7 linked regions of the Homo sapiens genome follow. The protein of the gene in region 3 purifies or fractionates together with the protein of the main gene of each other region. This does not show direct contact. Each region holds a gene or a part of one and is shown on either strand. Other genes may lie near its edges.

The links.
Region 1: the proteins of SIRT2 (region 3) and ORC2 purify together in Homo sapiens (affinity purification with mass spectrometry; 3 studies listed by BioGRID and IntAct, with this or other methods). This does not show direct contact.
Region 2: the proteins of SIRT2 (region 3) and VAMP7 purify together in Homo sapiens (affinity purification with mass spectrometry; 3 studies listed by BioGRID and IntAct, with this or other methods). This does not show direct contact.
Region 4: the proteins of SIRT2 (region 3) and DEGS1 purify together in Homo sapiens (affinity purification with mass spectrometry; 3 studies listed by BioGRID and IntAct, with this or other methods). This does not show direct contact.
Region 5: the proteins of SIRT2 (region 3) and RAB3GAP1 purify together in Homo sapiens (affinity purification with mass spectrometry; 3 studies listed by BioGRID and IntAct, with this or other methods). This does not show direct contact.
Region 6: the proteins of SIRT2 (region 3) and FADS1 purify together in Homo sapiens (affinity purification with mass spectrometry; 3 studies listed by BioGRID and IntAct, with this or other methods). This does not show direct contact.
Region 7: the proteins of SIRT2 (region 3) and SCFD2 purify together in Homo sapiens (affinity purification with mass spectrometry; 3 studies listed by BioGRID and IntAct, with this or other methods). This does not show direct contact.

What each region holds. Positions count from the first base shown.
Region 1 is NC_000002.12:200,928,786-200,932,674, forward strand, and holds part of ORC2 (origin recognition complex subunit 2), read right to left. Parts: intron 2,664-3,889; coding exon 2,554-2,663; intron 1-2,553. UniProt on the Homo sapiens protein: Component of the origin recognition complex (ORC) that binds origins of replication. DNA-binding is ATP-dependent. The specific DNA sequences that define origins of replication have not been identified yet.
Region 2 is NC_000023.11:155,894,688-155,898,576, reverse strand, and holds part of VAMP7 (vesicle-associated membrane protein 7), read right to left. Parts: intron 2,955-3,889; coding exon 2,897-2,954; intron 466-2,896; coding exon 328-465; intron 1-327. UniProt on the Homo sapiens protein: Involved in the targeting and/or fusion of transport vesicles to their target membrane during transport of proteins from the early endosome to the lysosome. Required for heterotypic fusion of late endosomes with lysosomes and homotypic lysosomal fusion.
Region 3 is NC_000019.10:38,889,245-38,893,133, forward strand, and holds part of SIRT2 (NAD-dependent protein deacetylase sirtuin-2), read right to left. Parts: intron 901-3,889; coding exon 859-900; intron 718-858; coding exon 611-717; intron 502-610; coding exon 445-501; intron 1-444. UniProt on the Homo sapiens protein: NAD-dependent protein deacetylase, which deacetylates internal lysines on histone and alpha-tubulin as well as many other proteins such as key transcription factors.
Region 4 is NC_000001.11:224,189,479-224,193,367, reverse strand, and holds part of DEGS1 (sphingolipid delta(4)-desaturase DES1), read right to left. Parts: intron 3,792-3,889; coding exon 3,049-3,791; intron 2,277-3,048; coding exon of another isoform or gene 2,235-2,276; exon of another isoform or gene 2,212-2,234; intron 1,037-2,211; coding exon 890-1,036; 3' UTR 1-889. UniProt on the Homo sapiens protein: Has sphingolipid-delta-4-desaturase activity. Converts D-erythro-sphinganine to D-erythro-sphingosine (E-sphing-4-enine). Catalyzes the equilibrium isomerization of retinols.
Region 5 is NC_000002.12:135,132,046-135,135,934, reverse strand, and holds part of RAB3GAP1 (rab3 GTPase-activating protein catalytic subunit), read right to left. Parts: intron 3,041-3,889; coding exon 2,951-3,040; intron 2,075-2,950; coding exon 1,902-2,074; intron 671-1,901; coding exon 616-670; intron 372-615; coding exon 3-371; intron 1-2. UniProt on the Homo sapiens protein: Catalytic subunit of the Rab3 GTPase-activating (Rab3GAP) complex composed of RAB3GAP1 and RAB3GAP2, which has GTPase-activating protein (GAP) activity towards various Rab3 subfamily members (RAB3A, RAB3B, RAB3C and RAB3D), RAB5A and RAB43, and guanine nucleotide exchange factor (GEF) activity towards RAB18.
Region 6 is NC_000011.10:61,813,921-61,818,470, forward strand, and holds the start of FADS1 (acyl-CoA (8-3)-desaturase), read right to left. Parts: upstream 3,084-4,550; 5' UTR 3,010-3,083; coding exon 2,635-3,009; exon of another isoform or gene 2,507-2,634; coding exon of another isoform or gene 2,366-2,506; exon of another isoform or gene 2,283-2,365; intron 1,331-2,282; exon of another isoform or gene 1,316-1,330; coding exon of another isoform or gene 1,154-1,315; exon of another isoform or gene 937-1,153; intron 1-936.
Region 7 is NC_000004.12:53,363,100-53,367,718, forward strand, and holds the start of SCFD2 (sec1 family domain-containing protein 2), read right to left. Parts: upstream 2,963-4,619; 5' UTR 2,843-2,962; coding exon 2,005-2,842; intron 1-2,004. UniProt on the Homo sapiens protein: May be involved in protein transport.

The sequences.
Region 1 (3,889 bases), on a different chromosome or scaffold from region 3:
CCTGGGCAACAGAGCAAGACTCTGTCTCAAAAAAAAAAACAACAAAAAAAAAGTCCTAAAAACTTTTATAGGCTGAAGCAGAGTTGAAACTGATACAAATTGAAAAGAGGTCAAGTAACAAAGGCCTTGTTAAGTCATACTAAACCATTAATTCACTCATTCCAAGGAGAATGAGCATTTATTTATTTATTTTGAGATGGAGTCCTGCTCTGTCACCCAGGCTGGAGTGCAGTGGTGCGATTTTGGCTCACTGCCTCCCGCGTTCAAGCAATTCTCCTGCCTCACCCTCCCAAGTAGCTGGGATTACAGGCATGCACCACTAAGCCCGGCTAACTTTGTATTTTTAGTAGAGACAGGATTTCACTATGTTGGTCAGGCTGGTCTGGAACTCCTGACCTCAGGTGATCCACCCACCTTGGCCTCCCAAAGTGCTGGAATTACAGACGTGAGCCACCGTGCCCAGCCAAGAATGAGCATTTAAAAGTAACTAATGAGGGGTTAACAGAAAGGTTTTAAGTAGGAAAGTAACATGTTCTTTTCAGAAAGATCACATTGATTATATTTGGGGAATGGACAGGAAGGAACAAAACTGTGGAAGATTAACTTAGCTGTCATGGAGAAAAATGTTAAAATGTCAAGAACTTTATAGAAAGTCAAACCAGTAAGAGTTGGAGACTGATTAGATGTGGAGAGTGAGGAAAAGAATACTTAAGAATGACTCAGGGCTGGGCGCTGTGGCTCACACCTGTAATCCCAGCAGTTTTGGAAGCCAAGGCAGAGAATTGCTTGTGCCCAGGGGTTTGAGACCAGCCTAGGCAAGATGGTGAGACCTCATCTCTACACAATAAAAAATAAAAAAAATTAGCCCAGGCATGGTGGCACACATCTATGGACCCAGCTATTTGGGAAGCTGAGGTGGGAGGATTGCTTGAACCCAGGAGGTTGGGGCTCCTTGAGCTGTATTCACACCATTCTGGGTGACAGAGTGAGACTGTCTCTTAAAAAGAAAAGAAAAAAAAAAAAGAATGACTCAGTTTTCTGCCATAGGCAACTACACAAATGGAGTGACTAACATTCAGTCATTCACTCTGCTGGATAGCAGGGGCAGGTGGGAACAGTGGATTTCAGATGAGTTTAATTTTATGTATGTTGAATTATTTACAGGACACCCAAGTATAAACTTCTAATATACATTCAGATATCCAGGTCTGCTACTGAGAGTGAGGTATGGGTTGGAGGTTAACAGTTACATGAGTCATTCATATACAGAAAACAACTGAAGCCAGAAGGGTGAATGAGACCACCCAGAACACCAAGCACTAGAGGTCAAGCTAAAGTCCAACTCCGTGATTGTTTACAAAGGTCAAGCAGAAACAGTATTTATGTGATGCTCTCTGGCAATGCAGGATAACCTAGAAATGGAAGAACAGAAAAGAGGTAACCTCCAAAGGTAGAGATTACCAAGGTCAAAGCAGCAGAAATAAAGAGGCAAGGAATTCAGAGAGCTAGCAATTCCAACAAACTTGCTGACTATAAGGTCTAATCTGAGAAGCAAAGCAAATTAAGTTATCTAAGTTGACACGCTGGGAGAAAAAAATGATGGGCTGGGGATGGGATTAGAATGAAGAGCTTACAAATTTATAATGCATAGATCCATAAATAGTTATTGAGAGAAGCTGAGGTTCTTGCAGGCAAGTTAATCATTCCCTTCCTAGCATAACTTTTTTTTTTTTTTTTTTTTAAGACAGAGTCTCTCAAACCCCTGGGCTCAAGCAATCCTCCTGCCTTGGCCTCCCAAAGCACTGGGATTATGGGAGGCCAAGTGCCTGGTCCATGGCTCTACCTTCTTATTTACCTCAGTGACAATGTAACTGTGAGTGTGCATGTATATTCACATTAGTGTACATTTTAAGCACTTCCTTATGTTCAAGTCTTTTTAACTGCAAGGATAAAAGTAATTATCATAAAAAGAAAGTATTATGTTTTGATTTCAATCATTCTTCTAGGTGTTTTAATGGAAATTTAAAATTTAATCTGAGGTGTGTGAAAATAATAACAGTGAAAAAATATTCTAGGAAATAATGTTAAAATAGTAAAATAATGCTTATAGAACAAATCTGTTCATAAAATTCTGAAAGTCTGTAGTACACATACATAAGATTAAAGTAAATATTATCCTTTCATTTAAAGAACTATGCTGTGGAAAACTTTATAATTTTTTTTTCTAATTGTTATATTTATTAATCTTGACAAAGGAAATATTCAAGTTTTTTAAACCAATAACATAATTCTAAGAAATGCTATTTATCTTATCAATGGCTGTCAAGTCTGATAAACACAAATTTCTTAAAAACTGTAGAATTTCTGGGAAGAGTCATACAATAAAGTGACATTTCTATATCTGAGTCATAATGTCTATTTTTACATTTATTTTTATATATGACTAAATATCTGAAACTCACTGTAAAAAGAAAAATGTTAACTTACTTTAACATAAAGATTCATGTAAATATTATTCTTTATTTTACAAGGGTTTGTAATGATAATACTTACTGTAATTGCAGCATCCATTTATGAAATAATTTTTCATACTGTTGATTTAGTTGTTTAAGTTCGGCAGAAAAGGAAGGGGAAACCTTGCTCAATAAGTTACGCAAAGTTTGCTTTAAAAAAAAGGAGGAGGGGAAAAAAGTCATTCTCAAAGCACAGACAGCAAATCAATCCAAACAATTTCCTTAGAAGTAGAGCTTAGAAGAAGCCAATCCAATTGGAATATTACTTTAATCTGGTTTGGCAATGAGTATATCAACCGATAAACAAAATTCTTAAAAAATAATTTTTTTGTTTTCTTAAAATTGTTAACATTCTTTTTAGTAATAACAGTAAAGAATTTGGTAAGTTTTGTCCAGAACCACTTAAATGATTATAAACTCCAAGAATAGGCTTTACTTTCTCAGAAAACATTAAAGGTTCTTTATAATTTACTTACTATTATCATTAGTAAAATAAACCTATATCACTGCTCCTCTTCCAAAAGCTGTTTCTAACAAATCCTTTATCTTTGGTAAGTATTGCAAATTTTTAAAAACAATAATATAAATAAACTGAGGAAAGTGCATTGCCCTGTACCCCAAACTTGGAAATTCATGCTGATGAATCAGAGATCATTTTTTGAAATGAAAACTCTAGCAAAAAGCTACACATGGGTCTTCACTTTGGCACTACCATGTTTTCATGATTCCACCACCTTTCAAGTAAAATATTATTTAAATACTGAAGATTAGAGTTGCGATAAATATTCCAGGTACTCTGGCTTGTACTGTGTTTATTTAGTCACAGTTAAAGCAAACAGAACTACCTTTAAGTAAAATTGTTAAGTAGGTAGTTAAAAAAAAACAACTCTTATCTCTTCTGAGTTCAGAGCCCTGAAAAAGCAGAGAAAGCACTAATATCTTTTCCAGCAGTCATTTACACTAGATTATCTGAGCATATTCACACTTGAGTGTGAACACTAGAATGTTATCTCATGTATGTACTTTCATTTCAAACTTTTTTTTTTTTTTTTTTTTTTTGAGACAGAGTCTTGCTCTGTCACCCAGCCTGGAGTGTGGTGGCACAATCTCAGCTCACTGCAAACTCCACCTCCCAGGTTCAAGCGATTCTCCTGCCTCAGCCTCCTGAGTAGCTGGGAGTACAGGCGCGTGCCACCACGCCTGGCTAATTTTTGTAGTTTTAGTAGAGATGGGGTTTCACCATGTTGGGCAGGCCGCTCTCAAACTCCTGACCTCGTGATCCTCCCGCCTTGGCCTCCCAAAGTGCTGGTATTACAGGTGTGAGCCTCCATGCCCAGCCTCATTTCAAACTTTAATTAATATTCATGGAAAACTGC
Region 2 (3,889 bases), on a different chromosome or scaffold from region 3:
AGAAGGTTTACGTATAGTTTAAAAGATCATTTGGCATGCTGAACACATTTAAGCATCAGATGGGTAGTTCAACTAGATGATCTTTAATGCTCTTCCAATCATGAGACACTGTGACCACTATTAATAGAGATAATAAAGACTATCACTGTTTTCTACCCTAAAATGGCCCCTTTACATTTTTTTTTTAATCAGGGAAGTTTTATTATGTTGGCTTACAGTAACACAATCAGAAAACTATATTGCAGGTCAGGGCCCCCTAGATTCATAGTGTTTGAAGGTAATGAAGAAGATATAAATCAAAATACCTTATCCTGAGAAAGATCTTACCAGCTGTGCAGCTAAGACACTTGAGAACTCGCTATTCATGGCATATGGAAGTGCTGTCTGTGCTCTTGAACCGTAAGTAGTCTGGAACCTCTTCTTTATCTCATTCAGAAAATTAAAGGCTCGGGAACGTTCAAAATCCTGAAAAGAGATCAACACAGAACTCACATTTAGAAAGTAAACAAAGATGATGTGAGTGATTAAGAACAACAATAAAAAACAGCTAACATTTACTGAGCAATGATTATCTGAGGAGGAACTAGCATTGATCCTATCTTAAAGATAAGTAAAGGAAGGCTCTGAAAAAGTAACTAACTTGTCCAAAGGTCCAACAACTAGTAAATGAAAGAGCTGAGAATGAATCCAGATATATCTGGTCATTGACAACTGAAGATAATGATACCTAGGTTATCAACTTCTTGACATCAGGAATTGAATTTTACTTCCTCCATATATTTCATAAGATCTATTAGAAGGCCCAGCACAAGAATATGTTTAATAAATCCCATAATAATCATAGAGTCTTTCACACATACAGATACTACTACTGATATTAACTTCAAATCGAATTTTTTCAATAGTGGTGGTATATTTGAAAAGATCAAGTGACATACTCATGTCTAATCCCAGCCAGCCAAAAAGTATGTGTGTTCTCTGTAAGAATACCTTAGAGGAAAAAAATGAATGTGTGTATGTGTGTTTATGTATACATGTATATGTGTGTATCAAATTATAGCTCAAGAAATATGAGGCTCGACTCTAACTATCCCAGATTTCATTAGTATTTTCCTTCTATTCCAAGCTGTTTCACATCAGTCATTTCACATATAGCTAGATTTTTTCGTACTTTTGGAAAATATTGTGAAGCCAGAGATAAAAATCATTGTGATGATCACTATGGTTGACAGTCATTTCCCTTTCACCCAAGATGCTTAGTCTAAGCCAAGGGTTCTTAAATTGGGGTCAATGGTCCAAATTCAAGGGGCCTTTGAACTTGGATAGAAAAAAAGAAAATCACATCATTATTTTTATCAATCGTTAACTTATATTTCAATTGTGAATATAGGTTGTATATTCATAATCGGGGTAGTATTAAACAGTACCTGTAACTGTCACCAACAGAAATCTTTTTTTGTATACCATCACAGTTACAGATATCTCAAAATACTGTCAACACCCATCACATCAAGACTATTAGTTATTAGACCTATGACTAGATCTTGTTAATGAGTTCATAAAGAAGCATATATATTACTACATCAAGTTTTTAAAATATTTTGAATACTATATATATATATATTTCAATATAATTGGCTTTGTTAGAATTGTGTGTGTTTTATACATTTAAAAGCATTCTGGAAAAGGAAAATTAAAAAAAGAAAACAAAAACATTCTGGGAGTGTCCCACAAGTGACGAGTCTGTGATACAATAAAGATTAGGAACCCTGATCTATGGCAACCATGCCAATTCCAAGTCTCTTTGCCAGTAGGCAGTTTAGAAATGAGCATGCAGCCAATAAGACATGAAAGGAAGTTCACTTTGAAAGCAGGGGGAGGGGAGGGCATGCAGCTGGGAAAAGCTTCCTCATTCCTACAATAAGACACTCAAGAAGACACAGTCCCTCTACTCCGGACATGAATAAATAAGTATGTAGCTCTACGAAACCATAATGGCAACCTGTCTGGGAAGAAGGAGACACGGAGATAAGCAGAGAAGAGAAAGGACCTTAATGACATCATTAAGTTACTGAGAATTTTGGGCTGAGAGCCGACAAACAGTCATACCTAACCAATGTAAACTACAGGTTTATATAGCTGATCATAATGTATTGTAATTTTGTTTTTCCAAAGTTCACATACATTAAAGGATTCATTAACTACTGATAGAAGAAATGATGCTATCTAATTTAACATTCCACGTAAACAATTTTTGAGAGGTTTTGATATCAAAGAATTATAATTATGAACATCAATTCTCACTACAAAATAGAATAAATATAGAAGTTGCAAGAGGCTAAGCTAAAACTCTACCAAAATTGAGTTGATTTGCACATACCCCAGTATCAAGTTTTCTTAACATTTGCTGCTCTATATGACAAATGCAAAATATTAACAATTCCAGCTATGTAAAGTTCGCATCACGTTTGCCCACTATAGGTACAGATCAGCAGTCCCCAACCTTTTTGGCACCAGGGACCGGTTTTGTAGAAGACAATTTTTCCAAGGACTGGGGGAGGGTGAATGGTTTCGGGATTAAACTGTTCCACCTCAGATCATCAGGCATTAGATTCTCCTAAGGAGCATGCAATTTAGATCCCTCGGATGCAGAGTTCACAACAGGGTTCACACTCATATGAGAATCTAATGCTGCTGCTGATCTGACAGGAGGCAGAACTCAGGTGGTAATGCTCATAGGCCACTCACCTCCTGCTATGTGGCCTGGTTCCTAACAAGCCACAGACCTGTACCGGTCTGCAGCCTGGGGGTTGGGGACCCCTGGTATAGATAATTAAGAACTGGCTGTATTAACAGTACACATAGTTAAATAGCAATATGTCTTCAAGTTACTTACATCATCAGTGATACAAAGATATACAATCCTGTCTTGGCAGATGTAATGAAACAAATAACTGTAGAATAAAAGATATAAAACTTACTGTGGTTATAAGCAACATCACTTTTACTTCTATCTTCTATCTATGTATAAGCACGTTCAGTACTGCCAATGTCACCATATTACTTACGGATACAGTCTCTTCTCCCTCTTCCCCTTCCCAATATACCTGTTTCTTTCAAGTCAAACTGATAGAAGTACATAAGAAATAAAAAGATCTCTATTCTAGCTACATAGCACAACAGCATGTGTATTACCCATTAGAACGATAGCTGCAAAAGCATAATTGGACTCTTAAAGCATGAACAAGAGATGACATCTTAGGAGGAGGATGTAATTAAGATTAACCCCCAATAGGCCATATGGTTTTCTTTGCTTTTTCCTAAGTTCTTAAAGCAAACATCTTTTCTACCAAATTCTCAACATTTGAGTATCCACTTTGAGTTAGTTACTGTGCTGGATGCTGAGGATACAAAAAAGCAAAACCACCAAGTCCCAGTCTTCATAGGGATCACAGTGTAAGGAATTACAGTGCAGCATGGCAAACAGGATGACAGGAAAGTTAAAGGCAGTACATGGTGCTCTGGGGACACATTAATAGATGAGGCACGAAATGGAGATTTGCCAAAGGGTAACCAGAAAGACTTCCCAGAACAAGTGATGTCTGATTTAAGACCTGAAGAATAAGTAACAGATGGCAAGGTAAAGAGTGAGCGAAAGGCCAGGCGTGGTGGCTGGCTCATGCCTGTAATCCTAGCACTTTGGGAGGCTGAGGCGGGCAGATCGCTTGAGCTCAGGAGTTCAAGACCAGCCTGGGCAACATGGCAAAACCCCGTCTGTACACAAAATACAAAAATTAGCCAGGTGTGGTGGCACACGCCTATAGTCCCAGCTACTTGGGAGGCTGAGGCAGGAGGATCGCTGGAACCCAGGAGGTTGAGGCTGTAGTAA
Region 3 (3,889 bases):
CTGTTTTACCCCCAGGGAACCGTCACAGCAGCCGCGTCGGGGAGAGACCACTGCTATCCCCAGATCACAGATGAGGAAACTGAAGGACAGGGAAGGGGATTGTGTTGCCAAAGTCACACGGTGGGTAAGCTGCAGAGCTGAGATTCACACCCAGGCAGCCCGGCTGCAGGGTCCCGGGCTCTCAACGGCATCATTAGTCAGCTAAGCCTCGCAGCAGCCCTCTTCAGACAGTACCATTAGCTTCACTTCACAGGAGGCAAATCGGAGGCTCAAGGTCGTAAGATGAAGACACGAGGAACCAGGACTTGAACCGAGGCAGTCTGGGCCCAGCACCCATGTACTTAATGGCTACATAATATTTGTCTGCAGGGCCTTGGCGGGGCTTCTCATGCGTGCCCTCCCCCAACCCTTCCTGTTTCGCCCCCTGCAAAACAAAGATCTCACCTTGAACTGCCCAGGATAGAGTTCCTTGGCGAGGGCGAAGAAGGGTTCCGGATGTTTCTGTAGGAGAGACAGCCAGAGGGCCAGATGCCCCAGGTAGCGTGAGGGTTGGAGCCAGGTGACCCCATCCCCACCCCTCACAGACGCCCCTTCCTGGGGGAGCACAAACCTTGAAATAGCTGATCTCAAAGATGGCCTCTGGGTAGGGAAGATGGTACTTCTCTAGGTTGTCATAGAGGCCGGTGGATGGAGAGCGAAAGTCGGGGATGCCTGCGGCTAGGAAAGGGGGGTCAGGGAGCAGTTGGTCTATACCATACTAACCCTCCCAGGACAGGGCTCAGATAGGGCTCCTCCCCAGCCCTTGGGAGGGACTCCCCAGTTCCTGGGGGTAGCTGCTGGGGGAGAAGGGTTACTTACATGTGGAGATTCCAGCTCCCACCAAACAGATGACTCTGCGACCTGGAGGAGAGGAACTTATGCACCATATGACACCGTTTGCTCAGTCCCTACGATAGCACCACCCATCACAGCCCCTGACATCGTTTACTCCATGCCAGGCCCTGGGGCAAGCATCTCAGATGCATGACGGGCCTTCCAATCATCTAGACGGGGATGGTGTTAACATCCCCATTTTATAAATGAGAAAACTGGGGCTCAGATAGGGGAAGAAGTCACACAATCAACTGCGGAAGAGCCAGCCAGCGGATAAAGAATCCAGTGTTGGGCTGGGTGCAGTGGCTCATGCCTGTAATCCCAGAACTTTGGGAGGCTGAGGCAGGCGGGTCATCTGAGGTCAAGAGTTTGAGCCCAGCCTGGCCAACATGGCAAAACCTCATCTCTACTGAAAATACAAAATTAGCCAGGCGTGGTGGCACGTGCCTGTAATCTCAGCTACTTGGGAGGCTGAGGCAGGAGAATCACTTGAACCCGGGAGGCGGAGGTTGCAGTGAGCCGAGATCATGCCATTGCACTCTAGCCTGGGTGACAGAGCGAGACTCCATCTCAAAAAAAGGAAAAAAAAAAAAAAAAGAGAATCCACTGTTGGAAATCACACCAACTTGGACTTGAGAAAAGGCCACTTTAGGATAAGAACCCTGGGCTGAGCAGAAATAGCTAGCTGGTGGCTGGTGAGTAGCCACCAGGCCATAGTACCCTGGCATCTGCCCATCAGCTGATAGACAGGCACAAGTGTGATATGCTGTGGATCAGATGCCTCTGGGATGCCCTGTCCAAGGGAGGACAGCAAAGGTGAACAGAGCACAAAGCCTGCCACAGCTTCAGCCCTGAGCTTCAGCTCTGAGATGCCATCAGGCCAGGCCTGGTTGAATCCAGTGGTGGCTACATGTGGTCTGGATTCAGGGGACCTGGGGTCAAATCCTGGCTCTGCCACTTGGCAACTGTTTGACCCTACACTGAGTCGTGACCTTTTTGTGCCTCCTTTTCCTCCTCTGTTCAGATCACTTCCATAATGATCTTACAGGTATAATGTGAATATCAAATAATAGGGCACTTGTAAAGTGCTGAGCCCAGTGCCTGGCAAATAGTGAAGCCTCAATTAAGTGGTTAAAAAGAAATTTTTAGGGCCGGGCCCGGTGGCTCACTCCTGTAATCCCAGCACTTTGGGAGGCCGAGGGGGGCAGATCACCTGAGGTCAGGAGTTCAAGACCAGCCTGGCTAACATGGTGAAACCCCGTCTCTACTAAAAGTACAAAAATTAGCCGGGCGTGGTGGCACGCGCCTGTAATCCCAGCTACTCGGGAGGCTGAAGCAGGAGAATCGCTTGAACCCGGGAGGCAGAGGTTGCAGTGAGCCATGATAGCGCCACTGCACTCCAGCCTGGGTAACAGAGTGAGACTCTGTCTCAAAATAATAATAATAATAAATTTTTAGAGCAGTGAGGTGAGGGTTGGAGCCTCACCTTTAAATTTTTGCAGAGAGGGGGTCTCGCTTATTGCCCAGGCTAGTCTTGACCTACTGGCCTCAAGCGATCCTCCTGCTTTCAGCCTCCCAAAATGGTGGGATTATAGGCCTGAACCACCACTCCCGGCCTCAACTAATTGTTATTTTTCATTACTATCTCCTCCTGGGCACCCTCATGAGCCAATTACCCCAGAATCCAGGTGCAGGAGGACACAAGGAACAAATGCTTTGTAGCCACTGCCTGTGTTGTCTTTGGGGCCTGCCCAGGCTAAAAGATGGCTGCAGACAGCTGCTCGCCTGCCGCAGGAGAGGGAGGCTCAGGGCAGCAGGCCTGGCTGCCTGAGGAGGGAGACAGTGGCAGCTGGAGGACAGGGACACAGGAGAAGATGTCCTCAACAAAAGGCTGCTCAGGAACCACAAAGGGTCGATTGTTCTAGTTGAGGACTGCCAAGGGCCTGGTTTCTCAGACTTTGGTGACCTCAACTTGTGGCAAGAAATATAAATTTCAGGCCGGGACGGGTGGTTCATGCCTCTAATCCTAGCACTTTGGGAGGCCGAGGAGGGTGGATTGCCTGAGCTCAGGTGTTCAAGACCAGCCTGGGCAACATGGTGAAACCCTGTCTCTACTAAAATACAAAAAATTAGCCAGTCGTGGTGGTGTGCGTCTGTAATCCCAGCCACTCGGGAGGCTGAGGCAGGAGAATTGCTGGAACCCGGGAGGTGGAGGTTGCAGTGAGCTGAGATTGTGCCACTGCACTCCAGCCTGGGCAACAGAGCAAGACTCCATCTCAAAAAAAAAAAAAGAAAAAGAAATATAAATTTCATGCTGACTCAGTAAGTGGACACCTATCCACCACATCTGAAATAAGCCTCCTGTAGTAATAACCACGGCACACCCTGCCACAGCTCTCGCTATGTTCCAGGCCCTGCTCTAAGCATTTGCATTTTTATTTATCTTTTAAATTTTATTACTTTATTTTTTTTTAGAGTCAGAGTCTCACTGTGTTGCCCAGGCTGCAGTGCAGTGGTGCCATCATAGCTCACTGCAGCCTCCAATTCCTGGGCTCAAACAATCCTCCCTTCTCAGCCTCCTGAGTAACTGAGACTACAGGCAACGCCCCCATATCTGACTATTTTTTTTTTTCTTGTAGAGATGGCGGGGGGGTCTCACTATGTTGCCCAGGCTGGTCTTGAACGCCTGGCGTTGAGTGATCCTCCCACGATGGCCTCCCAAAGTGCTGAGATTACATACATGAGCCACTGCCCCTGGTCCTATATTAATTTATTTAGCCCCGCCAATAACCTTATGAGTTAGATACTATAATCATTATCCTCATTTTATGAAACAGGCCTGGTCAATCAGAGTGCAGTAATTCACTCAGCAATGGAGAAGCGACCCAGGTCTGGCCAATCAGAGGCATGGGGGCAGGCATTTGACTCAACCGGGACCAATGGGAGCCAATCTCTGCTGTTTGGTTTGAACTACTGGGAAAAGGTGCTCTCTCGGTGGCAGCTCCTAGGCTAGTGG
Region 4 (3,889 bases), on a different chromosome or scaffold from region 3:
GTCCCATATAGAAGTTAAAATTTTTAAATGAGTAATTCAGCTTACAGGGAAATATATTTTCATCTCAATCTTTTATGCTATATCATACCTCAGGCTTTTTAAAAATTATTTTTGAGATGAAATTTTAAAGTTCCCCCGGTACCCAAGTTACCATATTATATAGTATAAAGATAGTGAAATACAAAAATGTAACAAATACTAATACACTGTGATTAATAGCTGTTTATTAGCTTTTTAATAAAGCAAAACTTTATAGTGAAATAAACTAGAAATAGCTTTTTATTTTTTATATATATTTATTTATTTTTGAGATGGGGTCTTGCTCTGTTGCCCAGGGTGGAGTGCAGTGGCACAATCTTGGGTCACTGCAGCCTCTGCCTCCGCCTCCTGGGTTCAAGCAATTCTCCCACCTCAGCCTCCCATGTAGCTGGGATTACAGGCATGTGCCGCCACGCCCGGCTAATTTTTGCATTTTTAGTAGAGATGGGGTTTCACCGTGTTGGCCAGGCTGGTCTCGAACTCCTGACCTCAGGTGATCCACCCACCTTGGCCTCCCAAAGTGCTGGGATTATAGGCATGAGCCACCGTGCCTGGCGAAATAGCTTTTTAGAAGCTTTTTAAATGATATGCTTATAAAATGACAGACATGAGTGAAACATCCTCAATGACGATAATACACAAGTCACAAGTTTCCTGTGAGTGAAACTGAGCAGTACAGAGTCAGGCTGACTGTTTAAAAGCCAGATTCACTTCTTGGTATCACCGAGCTCTTACTCTGAAATTGTGCCAGGGGAGCTTCTGAGCATCACTGGTCTCAAGTTTAATAATGCAAAAATTCCATTTTATCATCTAAAGTTTTGGAGAAGAATCCCTTTGGCACTAATGATATTTACTCCAGCACCATCTCTCCTTTTTGGTGCCTCTTCATTCTTGAGTAGGGACTTATTGTATCATCCATCACAAAATCATACAGTACTTTTATCCAGGAATTGTAGTGAGGGAGGTTGTCATAGTATTCAGCTGCTATTTTCCTCACCTAGAAGGGAAAAAATACAGCAAGATGAAAAATGAGTGTTACTAGGTTCTTTCAAAGATGACTGATGAATGGTTGACACAAACACTGAGAAGGGAAACCATGAGACCTGCCTCCCTCCTCTCTCTTAAAAAAAAAAAAAAGCAGCAGCAGCAGCAGCTGTGGGAATTCTAAACAAAAAGCAGTCTACATTTCAGCAGCAGTTGAATACACTCGACCCTCTAGGTCTCTCTCCCATCACATTCCAAGGGACTAAATATCTGGCTTATTTGTAAAATTAACAACAAATACATACAATTAGATTAACTTGATATTATTAAAGAATGTACTGCATGGATGACGCCATAGAATATAAAGGCAACATCTGATCCCTGCCATCCAGGAACTTACAAATACTAATAAATTGTGGCATGCTAATTAGATAGAAATTAAGCACTTGGCTGGGTGCGGTGGCTCATACCTGTAATCCCAGGACTTTGGGAAGCCGAGGCGGGTGGATCACCTGAGGTCAGGAGTTCGAGACCAGCCTAACCAATATGGTGAAACCCCATCTCTACTAAAAATACAAAAAAATTAGCCAGACATGGTGGCGTGCGCCTGTAGTCCCAGCAACTCAGGAGGCTGAGATAGGAGAATTGCTTGAACTCGGGAGGCGGAGGTTGCAGTGAGCCGAGATTGTGCCACTGCACTCCAGCCTGGGTGAGAGAGAGACTCCATCTCAAAAAAAAAAAAAAAAAAAAAAAAGCACTTATCAAATGTGCAATTCTGCCATCTCAAGTTAAAAATGTCTTTTCATCTCAAGTTAAAAAACTATCTGGATGGGCACAGTGGTTCGTATGTATAATCCCAGCATCATTCTGGAAGGCAAGAGAATCACTTGAGCCCAGGAATTTGAGACCAGCCTGGGCAACACAGGGAAACCCATCTCTCTCTTTTTTTTTTTTTGAGACGGAGTTTCGCTCTGTCACCCAGGCTGGAGTGCAGTGGCACAATCTCGGCTCACTGCAACCTCCACTGCCCGAGTTCAAACGATTCTCCCGCCTCAGCCTCCCGAGTAGCTGGGACTATAGGTACCCGCCACCATGCCCAGCTAAGTTTTTTGTATTTTTAGTAGAGACAGGCTTTCACTATGTTGGCCAGGCTGGTCTCGAACTCCTGACCTCAGATGATCCACTCACCTAGGCCTCCCAAAGTGCTGGGATTACAGGTGTGAGCCACTGCACCCATCCAGGAAACTCCAGCTCTATAAAAATGTTAAAAATGTTAAAAATTTTAACAAACCATTTGGAGGATTAAAAGAAATTATTTAAAAAATCAGCCTGTCATAGCATGTGGCTGTAGTCCTAGCTACTTGGGAGGCTGAGGCAGGAGGATCACTTGAATCCAGGAGTTTGAGACCAGCCTGAGCAACACAGCAAGACCCTGCCTCTACAAAAAATAAAAAATTAGCCAGGCATGGTGGCACGTGCCTATAATCCTGCCTACTCAGGAGGCTGAGGTGGGAGGATCGCTTGACCCAGGAGTTGAGGCTGCAGTGAGCTATCGTACCACTGCACTCTAGACTAGGTGACAGGGCAAGACCCTGTCTCTAAAAAAACATAAAGTTAAAAAATAAAATTAAAAATAAATCCTAAGTGTAACCACTAAGCTTAAGGACCCAAGAGTGAACCCTTTGTAAAAGTAGGCTGGAAGATGCAGTATTTATATTCTTGCTCTTTTTGTTTTTTTTTTTTTTAATGAACTGCTTGGACTGACAAAATACTAGCCTGGCCAACATGGCAAAACCCCATCTCTACTAAAAATACAAAAATTAGCTGGGCGTGGTAGCATGCGCCTGTAATCCCAACTACTTGGGAGACTGAGGCATGAGAATCGTTTGAACCCGGGAGGTGGAGGTTACAGTGAGCCGAGATCGTGCCACTGCCCGCCAGCCTGGGCGACTGAGTGAGACACCGTCTCAAAAAACAAACAAATGAAAAAACAAAATTAGAATATGTATCAAATCCTTTACTTACCAGTGGAAGACTTTTTCCAGGAATGTTGGGGAAATCATGATGTTCATTATGATAACCCACATTGAAGGTAAGTAAATTCAGAGGCCCATAATATGAGTAAGTTTCATGACCCTTTAAGAACATGTAATGCTCAGCTATAAAATGTCCAGAAATTGGGTGCAAACCCAGGCCAAGTAAAGATGCTGCCAACATGTAGACTAAGGATTTAATTCCCAAAAAGTAATAAATTAAAATGTCAAAAGTGACCTGTGCCACGGTATTGATAACTTCCAGATACGTAATTGGTTTGGGGTTGATGAACAGAGGTCGAAAGGCATAAAAGAGAGGCTGAAGAATAACCCATATAAACTTTCTGAAAGCGGTACAGAAGAACCAGCCCTCAAAATCGGTAGGAATATCTACATCGACGCCATCAGCTCCAAGGTACCGATGATGATCCATGTGATACCTCTTAAAGGAAATTGAATATGGAATCCCAATAGGAAGATTAGCAAACATTCCAAACCAGCGATTCCACATTGCTTTGCAGTTGCCAAAGGCAGCATTGTGGGCAATCTCATGAATAGCCAGAGTCATTGAGTGGTTAATGCAACTGCCAAACGCATAGGCCCCAAATATGACCCATTTCCAGTCCAAGTCTTTTACTATGTAAAATGCACCCAACTGGGTGAGAACCATCATAATTATAATCCATATCAAATTGGGATCAGGTTTCATCAAGGACTTTATCTCTGGATACTTTGCTGTAAAGAAAAAACAAAAAAACAGGAACTAAGAAAAGTATGTAATAGTTCACCAATTATAATTAAATTAACACCAATTAAACTAACACATTAAATTT
Region 5 (3,889 bases), on a different chromosome or scaffold from region 3:
ACCTGGGTTACTGGAATGTAGAGAGGTTCTCCATTATGCAGCAGTGTAAGTTTCCCATGCTGATAGAGCCGTCCTTCCGGCCTTAAATTTGCCATCTCCTTAGGTCCTCCTTTCTTGCCACTCTCTTGTCCATTTCCTTTAAGTTCTTCAGTATCACTTAGGCATTCAAAAAATTCTTCTTCGCTGTCACTCCAGGAATCCCAAGATTTTCCTACCTCTCCCTTTTCCTTATCTGTTTCTTTTAGATTATCTGGCACCAACTGGTCTCCTGCTTTTCCAGCATCCCCTGGATATATATTAGTGACATCTGAAGCACTTGTCTTTTTCCCCTCATCACGTGCCTTCTTTCTTTCAATACAACAATTTAACATCTTAAGAAAAGAGAAATAACATTTATAGTTGAATTAGTTACAGAAAAATAAAAATCTACCTACTGCTTGAATATTTAATTTTCACTCTCCACTTCTCAGGACCTTGTGAATTGCAGTGACTACTGACTATAGGCAACCTACAGCAGCACCATGAGAACAGCATGTAACCCATTATTACATTTAGTATTAGAATAATCTGATTAAATCAAGACCACATTTATCCATGTCATTGAGAAATCTTTACCTGTAGTTTCTGATGCAGTAAACAACACCTCAGATCTGGGGGTCCACTTGCTAATCTATCAAATAAAGTAAGGAGAAAAGAAAGCTTAGTTTTAGTAAAATTGCTTCAGATATGATTATTTTCTATACTACCATAATTTTTAGCTATATTGATAAGAAATCAAAACTAGATTTCCACAGGTAAGGTAAGTGAATTCCAGAGGGGGAGCACATAGAATTAAAAGATGAAAATTTATTTTATACTCCTTGTCCACAAATCACCAATAGCAAATATAATAGATATTTCAAAACATAACAGCAAATTAGTGATAGTTTTCAGGCTAACAAAAACTCAAAATGAGAAAAAGCCCCTGAACCCACTCCAGGAAGTACTAGCATACAGTATTTCACACCATACAAAATAAATCAGTTTGTGTATTCAGTACTAAATTCTTACAGTGGATTCTCACTATAAAAACCAAGATCTCCACCTGTATTTCAATAGGACCTTGGACTGTCTCTAGTTCTAGGTTCCTCTAGACTACTAGGTTCCCAGCAATCAGCCAGAGGCACTCCCTCATATTCAACATGCTTCTGGGTCTGTAAAATGTTCCAGAGCGGACTGTCTAAAACCAAGAGAGAATCCAGCTAAGCAGAGATTGGCAAATGATATAAATGTTTTTGGATCAGTAATCATTTTATATTGCTCAAAATCATGATTCTCCTATCATAGCATGGGTAGATGAGCACTAAACTATGCAATATCAACCTATGTGCTAATGAAAATGTTCTGTTTGATTAAGTAAAATGTCAATTACAAAAAACAGGTTTATTACAAAAGACTTTGAAAATGCATAAAAGTATAAAGAACAAAATAAAAGTATAATTTCACACTGGGAAAAACTGATAGCATTTCACAGTATTTATAATATTTTTCCTGTACAAATATAGCAACATAATTAAAAGTACTTTGTATATGCATTAAAATATTCTACTTTATTAGAAACAATATGAACATCTGTTATTAAAGATTATTGGGGGAAAAACTGTAATCAATCTAATTTTCTATTGTAGAGATACAGTATAATTTATTTAACTATTCTTTTATGTTTGATATTTAGGTTTTGCCTTTTTTTCTATTATATTAATAAATTTGCTGCAGTGAACACCTCTGAACATAAATCATGTCTAAGCTTCTTGCCACTTTCTTAGGGCAGACTTCCTAGAAGGGGGAAAAAATAGGTCAAAAGTCAAATGTCTGCTAACAAACAAAATCGTATCCAAACAATTGAAAATTGAAATTATTACCCTGGAATCAGAAAGTTGTTTTCCCATCGGAAACGCATTTCAAGAACAAATTCCTGCCAGAGGTGTGCCACTCCTTTCAACCCTCCATGGTAAAAATTGATCATACAGAGACACAAAGCCAGTTTGTATGTTAAACTGTCAGATGGTGCAGACTTGAACTGATTGTAGAGATTCTAAATTTAACAAAATAGAAACAAAGCAAACTTGTTACCAAAATATTTTACACATATAACTGAAAAGGTCGTAGGGAGAGATTTTAATTGTAAAATTAACCTATCCCACCTAAACTAGGCATTATCAAATGTCTAATACACTACTGCATAAACTATTCTTAGGAAGTCCCACATTTTCAAGATTTCTACTAAGATTAAAAAAGATAAAGCTATAGTTTAATGAAGCTAAAGTTACAGCTTTCAATTTCTTCTGTGGAATATTTAGGAAGTATTCCAAATTTCATGTGTTGTTTTAAAAATCTTTTAATTACAAAAATGAGCACGTCTGAAAAAACAAAAATCATAACTATCTAAACTGAAAATGTAAAAAGCCTTTGCTTTTTTCTCTCACCTCATCAAATCTACTTCTCAACAATAACTACTGTAAAGGTTGATATATATCTACACTTGTCATTTAAATTCTTCAACTTCTTAATTTTTCAAAGACTAGACAAAGAGACCATGAAAATTTTACCTAATTTTACACATTTTACTTCATTAAAGAGTTGTCCATTCACTAACTAGTTTTAAAATATCAAAAAGAATCTGCTGAGAAACACAAATTTAATGATTTCACCAAAACTCTACAATGAGGGAAATCCTACAGCTGTGTAGAGTATATTTGTGCTATTTTTTCATTGTTTCCAGAAAAATTCTTGCTACCCAAAATATGTATCTGTGCTAGTTATCTAAGTGGAAACCACGATCTGCCATCCAAAATTCCCAAGGTGATTTTTAAAATAAAAATATAGTAAGCTATTAAACTAGAAATATATAGAACCTCTAGAAATTCAGTGCATTTAAAACATTTTAACATTGAACTCCACATCAACTTACATAGTCTTCACTCTCTGATGGAGGATTATTATTATCTGTTGAAGTAGTTCCATCTAATGGTTTCTCAGAAACAGCATCAGGGAATAAGAACTTGAAGGAAAGGAAAAAAATAATCACATTTTAGACCACATTTCCTATTTTGTTGATTTTTATAACTCATATAGACATTATTTAACTTTTTAATGGTTTTGCTGCTCTAACAATAGAAATGTTCCAGTTGTATTGGCCAGTTTGTTCTACACTCTCAAATTTTTTCTATTTTTCTTTGAAAATATACAAGGTTTCAGTGACTAGCCAATTTTAGAAATTAGAATTTTTTTCTTAAAAGTAATCACTTGATTCTGTAAGCTGAAAGGTGCAAAAGCAAAATCTCATCACTGTGACTTCATGCTCACCCAAGGCCATTACATTTTTTTAGTGTTACTACTATCTAAAAAACAAAACCACAAAAGACAATTTAAAAACACTCATGTACTCATGAGGATCTGAAGAGTTACATCATCCACAGGCTTTCATATATAGACTACTAAGAGATGATATTCAAGACCCACAGCTTTATTTTATGATACCCCTGGAAAGTAGGAAGCAGTCTAAACCTATAATAACCAATGTACCTTTTCCATGTGGTTTCTGTTTATATGTACATGTACGAGTGGTCAAAAAAAAATCCAGTGTACATGACAACTGAGCTACATGATTTGAATAACATTCTTTTAAGAATACAGTCTTAAGAAGGAGGCTCTCTATAGACATTTATTTACAGTCCTTTTATCACTGTTCCTCTCAATTGTTTTGTGGTACTGCTGATTAGTAATCCCTCTTACTATGTATACTTTGCCACACATTATAGAACATGTCCAATAGACTTTTAAAAATTAGATGAACTACTATGTGCCAAGTGCCATAAGGCACAATTACCAGCATTATCCTATTCTCATA
Region 6 (4,550 bases), on a different chromosome or scaffold from region 3:
ATCGCGCCACTGCACTCCAGCCTGGGCGACAGGGAGACTCCGTCTCAAAAAAAAAAAAAAAAAAAAAGGCTGCTCCCCCTCACACCCCCCAACGTCCAGCAGCGGCAACCTGCTCGGGTACCCTTCCACGCTGTGGAAGCTTTGTTCTTTGCTCTTCACAATAAATCTTGCTGCTGCTCACTCTTTGGGTCCACGCCACCTGTAAGAGCTGTAACACTCACCGCGAAGGTTCATGGCTTCATTCTTGACGTCAGCGAGACCACGAGCCCACCTGAAGGAACCAACTCCTGACACAGAAGCACAGGCCATCTCCCTAGGCCCAGCTGCCTTTTGAGGGTGCTCCCAGGTGTCCACAGTTTAAGATCACCGAGTATCTGCTCTAGTTAGAAGGATGCATCAAGGAATGGGAAGCATTGGCTGAGGGGAACCACTAAGAAACACCTGCCTGGGCTGGCCTTTCCCCTGGGTGTGTCCACAGACAGCTTTTGCCCAAGAATTTCAGTATAGGTGAGAAACAGGAGAGATGGGTGGGGCTGTGTCGGGCGTTGGTTCCTTCCGGCGGGTATGGTCTCACTGACTTCAAGAATGGAGCCGTGGACCTTCCCGCTGTTATAGCTCTTAAAGGAATAACACTCTTTGCAGACCCAAAGAATGAGCAGCAGCAAGGTTTAGTGTGACGAGCAAAAGAACAATGCTTCCACAGCCTGTAAGGGAACTGGAGCGGGTTGCAGCAGCTGGCTGGGGTGGCCAGCTTTTATTGTCTTAGTTGTCCCTGCCCACGTCCTGCTGATTGGCTCATTTTACAAACCTCTAGCTAGCTACAGAGCGCCAATTGGTGCGTTTTTACAGAGCACTGATTGGTGCATTTTACAAACCTCTAGATACAGAAAAGTTCTCTAGGTCCCCATTCGACCCATCAACTCCAGCTGGCTTCACCTCTCAGGGCTATGAGACTTCCGTCCCTTCTTGCGGGTCTTTCAATAAGTCCCTTTCCTCTCTTAGCTAGGGTTCTCCAAAAACCACGAAGAGGAAGACTTCCCTACGTCCGAACTGGGGCACTTCTGCGTTTCTTCCCTTTCCCTCCACCGTTGTTCTGGGTAGGGCTCCACATTTCCCTAAGCACTCTGGCCACCCCCTGCCCCAAGGCAGCTACTTTGGGTTGTGCAAGGTAAGGTCCATGGCGATAAGATTCACGTTGGCAGGTCCGGCAGCCCCGGGCCCTGTAAGTGATGCGGCGTGTGGGGCGGGGGCCGGGGCGGAGCCGGCGGCCGGTGGCACCACACATACGGACCAATCGCCGTCCCCGCCGCGGCATTCCCGGCCCCAAATCACACTGCGGGAAGCTCCAGCGTTGGTGCCTGTTTCGTCTGCGCATGCGCCGGGACACGCCTGCGCCCTTGGCCGCAGTCAGGGCTCCCGAGTGGTCACTCTGGTTGACCCGCGCAAGCTCTGGCCTCGCCCACTAGGCTGGTCGCGTCAGAGGGTGGGGCGGGTCTTCGCCCCGCAGCGTCTAAGCTCTGCTGCGACGTTATGGGAACCTGGTGACCCGCGGCACACTCTGGGACGCCAGGGTAGTGGATAGGGACAGTGGAGGGCATCACGCTGCAGGGCACGGGATCAGAGGGGGATGCAAGGGGAGGGGACGCCATTCTGGCCGCCAAGGGGGAAACGCGGTGAAGGGAACGCCCCGACTTTCGAGTCCCTAGGACTGAGTCCCCAGGACTCCAACCCAGCAGAGAGGCGCCGGGGCCTTAGCTCTGAGGGCTGTGGTCTAGAAAGGGAAGCAGCAGGCCTGGGGCTGGGGCGCGCGCCGACCCCGCAGTGAGACCAAGGGAAGAAGGGACAGGACCCCGCGAAGGGCCTACCGCCCCAGAGCGTAAACAGCGGTCCGCTCCGCGGAATAGCTGAAGACCTCGCTGGCCTGCGGCTCAGTGGCCTCCCCGGCGATTCGAGAACAGCTCTGGGGGTCCTCGCTAAGTGTATGCCATTCCCAATCCCTTATGTACGCCAGCGGCCGCTTGCCCTCCCCGGCCAGCGCTGTCCCTTCCGCGTCCTCCAGTCTTCACACGACGCAGGGGTCCCCAAGGCAGCGGTCTCCCCAAGCTTCCCGTTTCAGCCCCATCCTCGAGAATGGGCTCCTTTCCTGCTCCCTCTCCGCTCCTGCTGGCGAGTGGAGACCGGCACCTAGGTCCAGACGCGGCTGCGCTGCCTCTCCTAGCCATCGAGACAGGATGTGACTCCCTCCCCTGGCCACTGACCCCCTCCCTCCCCAGGCGGCCTGCATCCTTGCTCTCCTCCCTCCTAGCCTACCCAGCTCGGGGTTCTGTCCCCGCCCAGAGACCTGAGGCTCGGGGCTGCAGATGGAATGCACGGCAGGGAGGCGGGACCCTTTGTTTGTGTGTGCGTGTTGTTGGCCTCCATCCCCACTCCCCAGACTCCACTTCTCCAGGCCTCTCTCCCGCCTTTTCATCCCGCATCCGCAGGACACCCAATCACCGGGCAACAGGTATGATCAGGCGCCTCCGGGCTTTCCTCCGAATTAGTCGGTGTTTGGCTCGGAGTGCGTAACTCTGTCTCCCCTGCACTCAGCCTCCGGTCCCGCCCTCTCCTGTGCCCCCGCCTGGCTGCGCTCACCGTGGCATCCTGCCCGGCGTAGTGGCTGATGACCCGGGAGCCCCCTGGATGCCGGCGGGTGAACTCGCTGATGTTGTACACCTTACGGTCGATCACTAGCCACCGCTCCTCGCACCCTGAGCGCTGGGCCACCTCGTCCCAGGTGAAGTAGCGCGGGGTAGGTCCCTGAGCCGCGGTCTCGGCGGCCACCGGGTCGGGGGCCATAGCTGGCCTGGCGACGCCGCGCGCCGGGCCAGCAGGGGCTGTCAGGCGCGTGCTCGGGGTCCGCGGGCTCCAGGAGTGGATTTGCTGGCGCGCGCCCAGAGCCAGCCGCCTGCGCGCCGGGTTTTCAGCACCGCAGGGCAGACCGGCGGGCCTCGCAGCGCGCGTTCCCATTGGCCGAGCCTCGTGGCGCGGGGAGCGAGATCCCGTCCCCCGGTGGGTCTTGGGCAACTCACAGCTGGGCTGCCAACACGCGCCCCCTCGCGGGCTCCCTAAAGGCGTCGCCGCCGGATTCGACTTCCTGACGTCAGGCGGGCATCGCGGCGTTGGCTCCCAGGGGGCGCCGCGGTAGGAACAGCGGTTCTAGTGCAGGCCCTGGGTGCGGGGCCGCGCTGCAGGAGTGAATGGACTGAGGGGCCAGGGCTGCGGGGTGGCCGCAGGAAGGGTGGGCGGGGCCGGGGTTGAGGTTTTTCCGTGCACGAGGCTGCCCGGGCGGTCGCGGACATCATCTTTAGGCTGTGGATGCCTTGGCCGGGGTCTCCAGACGCTGACCCTCCAGGGTTGGAAACTACTGCCTGCTTGCCACGTCGTGCCGCCAATTGTGCTGCCCGAAGTAGCAGCCTGAGAGCCCTTGAAAGTTGCAGTTATCTTGTGAACAGCATATTTACGGTCTCTTGGGCTTGGTGGTGGTTGGGGGAGGGCTGTTAATGCTTTAATTTGTTCAATGAAACATTTAAAATGCCCCACAATTTTTATAACCCTGTTTGCCTCTTTTTGTTTTTATTTTTATTGTATTTTGGAAAAATTCACTGGGATCCTTGAGTGATGATCCTAGCGTCTCCTGACCCTTAGGTGTTTCACCTGAAAAGCCTGGGTCTTCAAGCTGAGGCATTTCTGTTCTAGCCTGGAGGCGCCTAGGAGCCCTGGGAGACTTTTTAAGCAGAGAGATTTGGCATTTAGATCTCTGGGTTTTAGAGGAGTGGGAACGCACCTAAAAGTGGGGTTGCCAGTTACAAAGCTGTTGCAGTCCTGAAGAGACCCAGAGTTTAGGTCCAAAATTTTATTTATTCAACAAACACTTTATAAAGCACTTACTGTGTGCCAGGCACTGTTCTTAGCGTTTTGCAAACCTTAACTCATTTAATTCTCCTAACAACCCTATGAGGTTGGAACAATTAACCTAATTTACAGTGAAGAAACTGAGCCCGGGGGAGGTTATTTTGTCACACAGCTTGTAAGTGGAGGGCTGAGATTTGACCCTGGCCTGTGCTCTGAACTCTCAGGCTCTGCCATATTTCTCATTACACTGGTATTTGGGCACTTCAAAGGGAAAGGAAACATAACTGTCCCAAGCACTGAGCTAGATTCTGAGCACGTAGGAGTCAGGAGAGGGTGATACAGAATAGACTAGGTGAAATATGGCTAGATTTCTGGTAGAAAAGGATTAATTCATTCCATCCAAATTCTTCATTTTATAGATAAGAAAATTGAGGTTCGAAATGGGGAAGGGGCTTACCAAGTTCCCATAGGGAAGTTTAGATGTCCTGACTTCCAGGTAAGATGCCAGGCTATTGGACCCTGCTCAGGAATGATGGTCCACACAGCTGCACCTCTGTACAGCCAATATTCCTTTTTTAAAAACCTTGCCCAACAACTTGGCAGTGTCTAATGCGAGCTACAAAACATTTTCTATTCTTTGATCAAGCAGTTTCACT
Region 7 (4,619 bases), on a different chromosome or scaffold from region 3:
TCTATGTGTCTTTATTTTGCAAATCATTCTTTTTTTCTTTTTTTTTTCTTTTTTGAGACAGAATCTGACTCTGTCACCCAGGTTGGAGTGCAGGGATGTGATGGTGGTTCACTGCAACCTCTGCCTTCTGGGCTCAAGTTATCCTCCACCTTAGCCTCCTGAGTGGCTGGGACTACAGGTCACCACACCTGGCTAGTTTTTTCATTTTTTATTTAATTTTTAAATTTTCTGTAGAGATTGAGTTTTGCTGTGTTGCCCAGGTTGATCTCAAACTCCTGAGCTCAAGCAGTCTGCCCCCCTCAGCCTCCCAAAGTGATGGGATTACAGGCATGAGCCACTGTGCCGGGCTCTAAATCATACTTGACTACGTTATATTGATACTTGACTACATTATATTGTAAACTTTTAGAGGGCAGAAGTTATGCTCACCTTATTTATTCTGTATGTTTAAAAAAAGGGCGCGGTGGCTCACGCCTGTAATCCCAGCACTTTGGGAGGCCGAGGCGGGTGGATCACGCGAGGTCAGGAGATCGAGACCACGGTGAAACCCCGTCTCTACTAAAAATACGAAAAGTTAGCCCGGCGTAGTGGCGGGCGCCTGTAGTCCCAGCTACTCGGGAGGTTGAGGCAGGAGAATGGCGTGAACCCGGGAGGCGGAGCTTGCAGTGAGCCTCGCGAGATTGCGCCATTGCACTCCAGCCTGGGCGACAGAGAGAGACTCCGTCTCAAAAAAAAAAAAAAAAAAGCATTACCTACTGAAGATGTAAAGAGCTGTTACTATGATGCTGGACAGTGGGATATTAAGTTTTGCCTAACAGAAGTCTTAGGGGAGGGTACAAAATTATGTGAACTTCCCAGTTGATTATGAAACAACTTTGCTACATTTTTGGCATAAAGAGATAGAAGTAACAGTAATATATAGCATCCACAAAAAAACTCAACAAGCATCTACTTATCAGGTTTTATCTTTTAATCCCCTATGGACTCTGTGATGCTACAGTTATTACTTATATATTTAAATCACAGACTGGACACCTGGTTTTTCCAGTCACATAATTAAGTTTACATCTCAGTATTACCATTTAGCCTACTTTCCATTTTTTATCTGAAAATTAATCTTATTAAGATTAAAAACTCAAATATACCTATTTCGTTTTTTATAACTTAATTCAACTTTTTTTCTGACCGATTAAAGGGAATGCCTACCAATGTCAGTTTTCCGATTATTCTCCCTGGACTTGGAAGTGGCTAGGCTATATTACTAACAGTATTATACAACCTAATTAGAGAACAATAAAGTTGACCTTTGAAAATAACATATCAAACATCAGAAAGTGTCTTTTCTTCATCTGCTTTAAGGATTACATTTGTTTCTTTTGTGTAAATAATACATTATTACAATTTGAGATTATTTACTTAATCTTTAATACAATGAGAGCTAAAAATAAATCAATAAACATTTGAAAATATTTTCTACAATTCTATTTCATCTCATTTACTAGTAACATTTAAGTTCAGCCTCACTTTTGAACACTCATTTCCTAAACCTCAATTGTCTGTAATAATTTTATGTTTTCTTGTGCAGTAGTTTTCCTTCCGCTGGGTCATCTATTAACACTTCTCCAACAAACCAGAGTCTTCTTATGAAGGACTGTTGTGAATACTGGCATTCGTAAATTTCTAAAAATAAAATTTCCCAGGTGCACAGTTTTCCTCCCTGTCAGCATAATCTTGGGCTAAAGTTGTTGTTTAACAAGGCAATGGGCATTTATGACATTTCTACCCATTACAGCATTTAACAAATGTTATTGTAATTGCTAATTCACCTGTCTGTATTCCACTTTAGACAATAAACTCTGTGAGATTAGAGACCGTGTCCATCTAGTTCATCTTTGTATCCTCAATCTAATATATAATAAAAGGTCAATAAAATATATGCTGAATCAATGAAAGTCCCAGCAATGTGGGGAATGGTAATGAAGAACTCCAGAGCAATGCACTTACCTGTGAGATCCAGGGTTCTGTCCACAAAAACCACTGATGCCCTGCCTGCAGCAGTCTTCTTCCTGTTCTTTGCAGGGGCATAATTGGCCAGATCCGCAGCGATGACCTGACTTAAGGAACCTACAGCAAAACACTCCTCCCGTACTCCTAAATGTTCACACAGAGAACTGAGGCCTGACACTAGGCATCTGATCTGCAGCAGCAGCTCTGGGGTTAGCGTAGTGGAGTCCACATCACCCAGGCTTCCCAGCTTCCTCTTGTCCGGTCGGGCGCTATTAAGGAGGTGCACATCCTGGGGTAGCAGTGGGAAAAGGGATGCAAAAGCTGGAGTCAAGGCAAAGTGGGGAGCAACAGGGGCAAGCAATAACGGGACATGGAACACCTCGGCCGTGTAGTTCATGTTGCCCATCCATTCACACAGCTTCTCCTCCAGCTGCTCGAACACCGGCTGCTGCCCCTCCATCTCGGCCGCTGCCGCCGCTGGGACATGATTAGCTGTGAGGTGGACAGCGTGGCTCACGGTTGTGACCACCACACAATACTGGAAGTGACTGCGGCAGATGATGTCCCGTAGGATCTCCACGGTCCGGCCTTTCAGCAGGCAGCTCAGCACAAACACTGCCTTGGGCTGCTTGGCTCCACCACCAATTGCGTCGGGCTCGAACTCTCGCAGGTGACAGTCAGGACCCCCCACCGCCTCCAGGAGACGGGTGGATCCGCAGCCCCAGTGCAGGCTCTCGGCGCAGGCGGCGTCCAGGTAAACCACAGCCCGTTTCACTTTGGCCAGCACCTGCTCCCATCCTTGCTGGGTAAAGGACAGTACGCCCGAGGCGCTCATGGTTGGGGATTCGCAGACTTGGGAAACTACGGTGCAGGAACTTCTTTCAGAACTCACCGCTTCCGGAAATTGGGCTCCGGGAGACTTTGACAGTCTCCACAGTACACGTGGTCGGCCTCTGACACGCTCCCTGATGGCGCTCGGTGATGACGTTAAACTGAGCGGTGATTGGCTAGAGAGGAGGCCGGGAGTGAGGAAGGATGGCGCGGTCGGGAAAGAAGTGGGTGGGGCTCTGTGGCTCCGGGCTTCCTCAAAAGCTCGTGGAGATCAGGTGTTTCCTGAGATGGAGCTGAACTGAGTTCTTTCCGTCGCTCGGCCTGTCTGCGCAGATAATCTTCTCAGATAATCTTCTCATGTTCCTTGAAAAGTCTCCGAAATAAAAACCTAATCCGAAATTTGGTATCTTCCTTAGATATGAACACGTCTCCAAAAGTACAGCCACCTTCTCAATCTAAACTCAGAGCAACTAGAAAAAGATAATAAAAACAACCGTGTGCAATATTTTGGGTTTATAGATTGCTGTCACATACGTTATCGCCCACAAGCCTCATAACAAACCCTGTTGTTCTCATTTTCACTTTCTCCATCTTTCCTCCCTCATCTCATCGTCACTACATCTTATAGGCTTAAAAACTCTCAGAATTCAGCCCTTCCTCTCCATTTTTGCTGTCACAAAAACCCAACATCATCGCTCACCCAGGCAATGATCTCCCAACATTTTCTGACTTTTGATCTCTTTACCCTCCAATTCTATTTTCTTCCTAATAAACAAAGTTGGTCCTACAACTTTCCTGCTTAAAAGCTTCTCCTAGCCCAGTTGCCTATAGGATACATCCACACTCTTTAAAAAGCATCAACATCCTTCTTGATTTCTCAATTTCTCTCCAGCTATTCCCAACATGGAGAAAAATTGTACCGATACAATGAAGTCAATAGGCTGAACCCAAAATGTTTTATGGGTTCTGTTTGTTCCACCAATATACTTACATTACTAAGTATAATCTCTGTGCTAAGCTTCAAAGATGCAATGGTTAATAAAATTCATTACCTAATCCACAAAGAATTTACCTGGTAAACTTACCGAAAATAATCATTCCAACAGTACTGCCTGTGAGAGACTTTTTCTAACTCACCACCACTATCACCCTATCACCTCTCACTTCCCCCACCTATCAAACCACTCAATTGATACATTCGCTAAGTACTTGCCATATCATGGGGTAAGTATTAACACTATTTTCTTTAAACTATCTGTTTTGCTAAATTATGCACTAGATGCTTGGTATCCCCAACACTTATAACAGGTGTTCAATAAATGTTCGTTGAATGAATGTTCAATTAATATCCATGGCCAGGCGCGGTGGCTCATGCCTGTAATCCCAACACTTTGGGAGGCCGAGGTGGGCAGATCACCTGAGGTCAGGGGCTCAAGACCAGCTTGGCCAACATGGTGAAGCTCCGTCTCTACTAAAAGTACAAAAAATAGCTGGACATGGTGGCAGGTACCTGTAATCCCAGCTACTCGGGAGGTTGAGGCAGGAGAATCACTTGAACCCAGGAGGGAGAGGTTGCAGTGAGCCAAGATGGCACCACTGCACTCCAGCCTGGGCGACAGAGCGAGACTCTGTCTCAAAAAAAAAAAAAATTCCACATAATAATATATCCAGCCAATTTTTAATAAATACGTACAGTATTCCAAACACTGTCTGGGTTTTAAGGATATAAAGAAAACTAAACCACAGCCCTGATTTCAAAATAATTATGATGAAATAAAGGG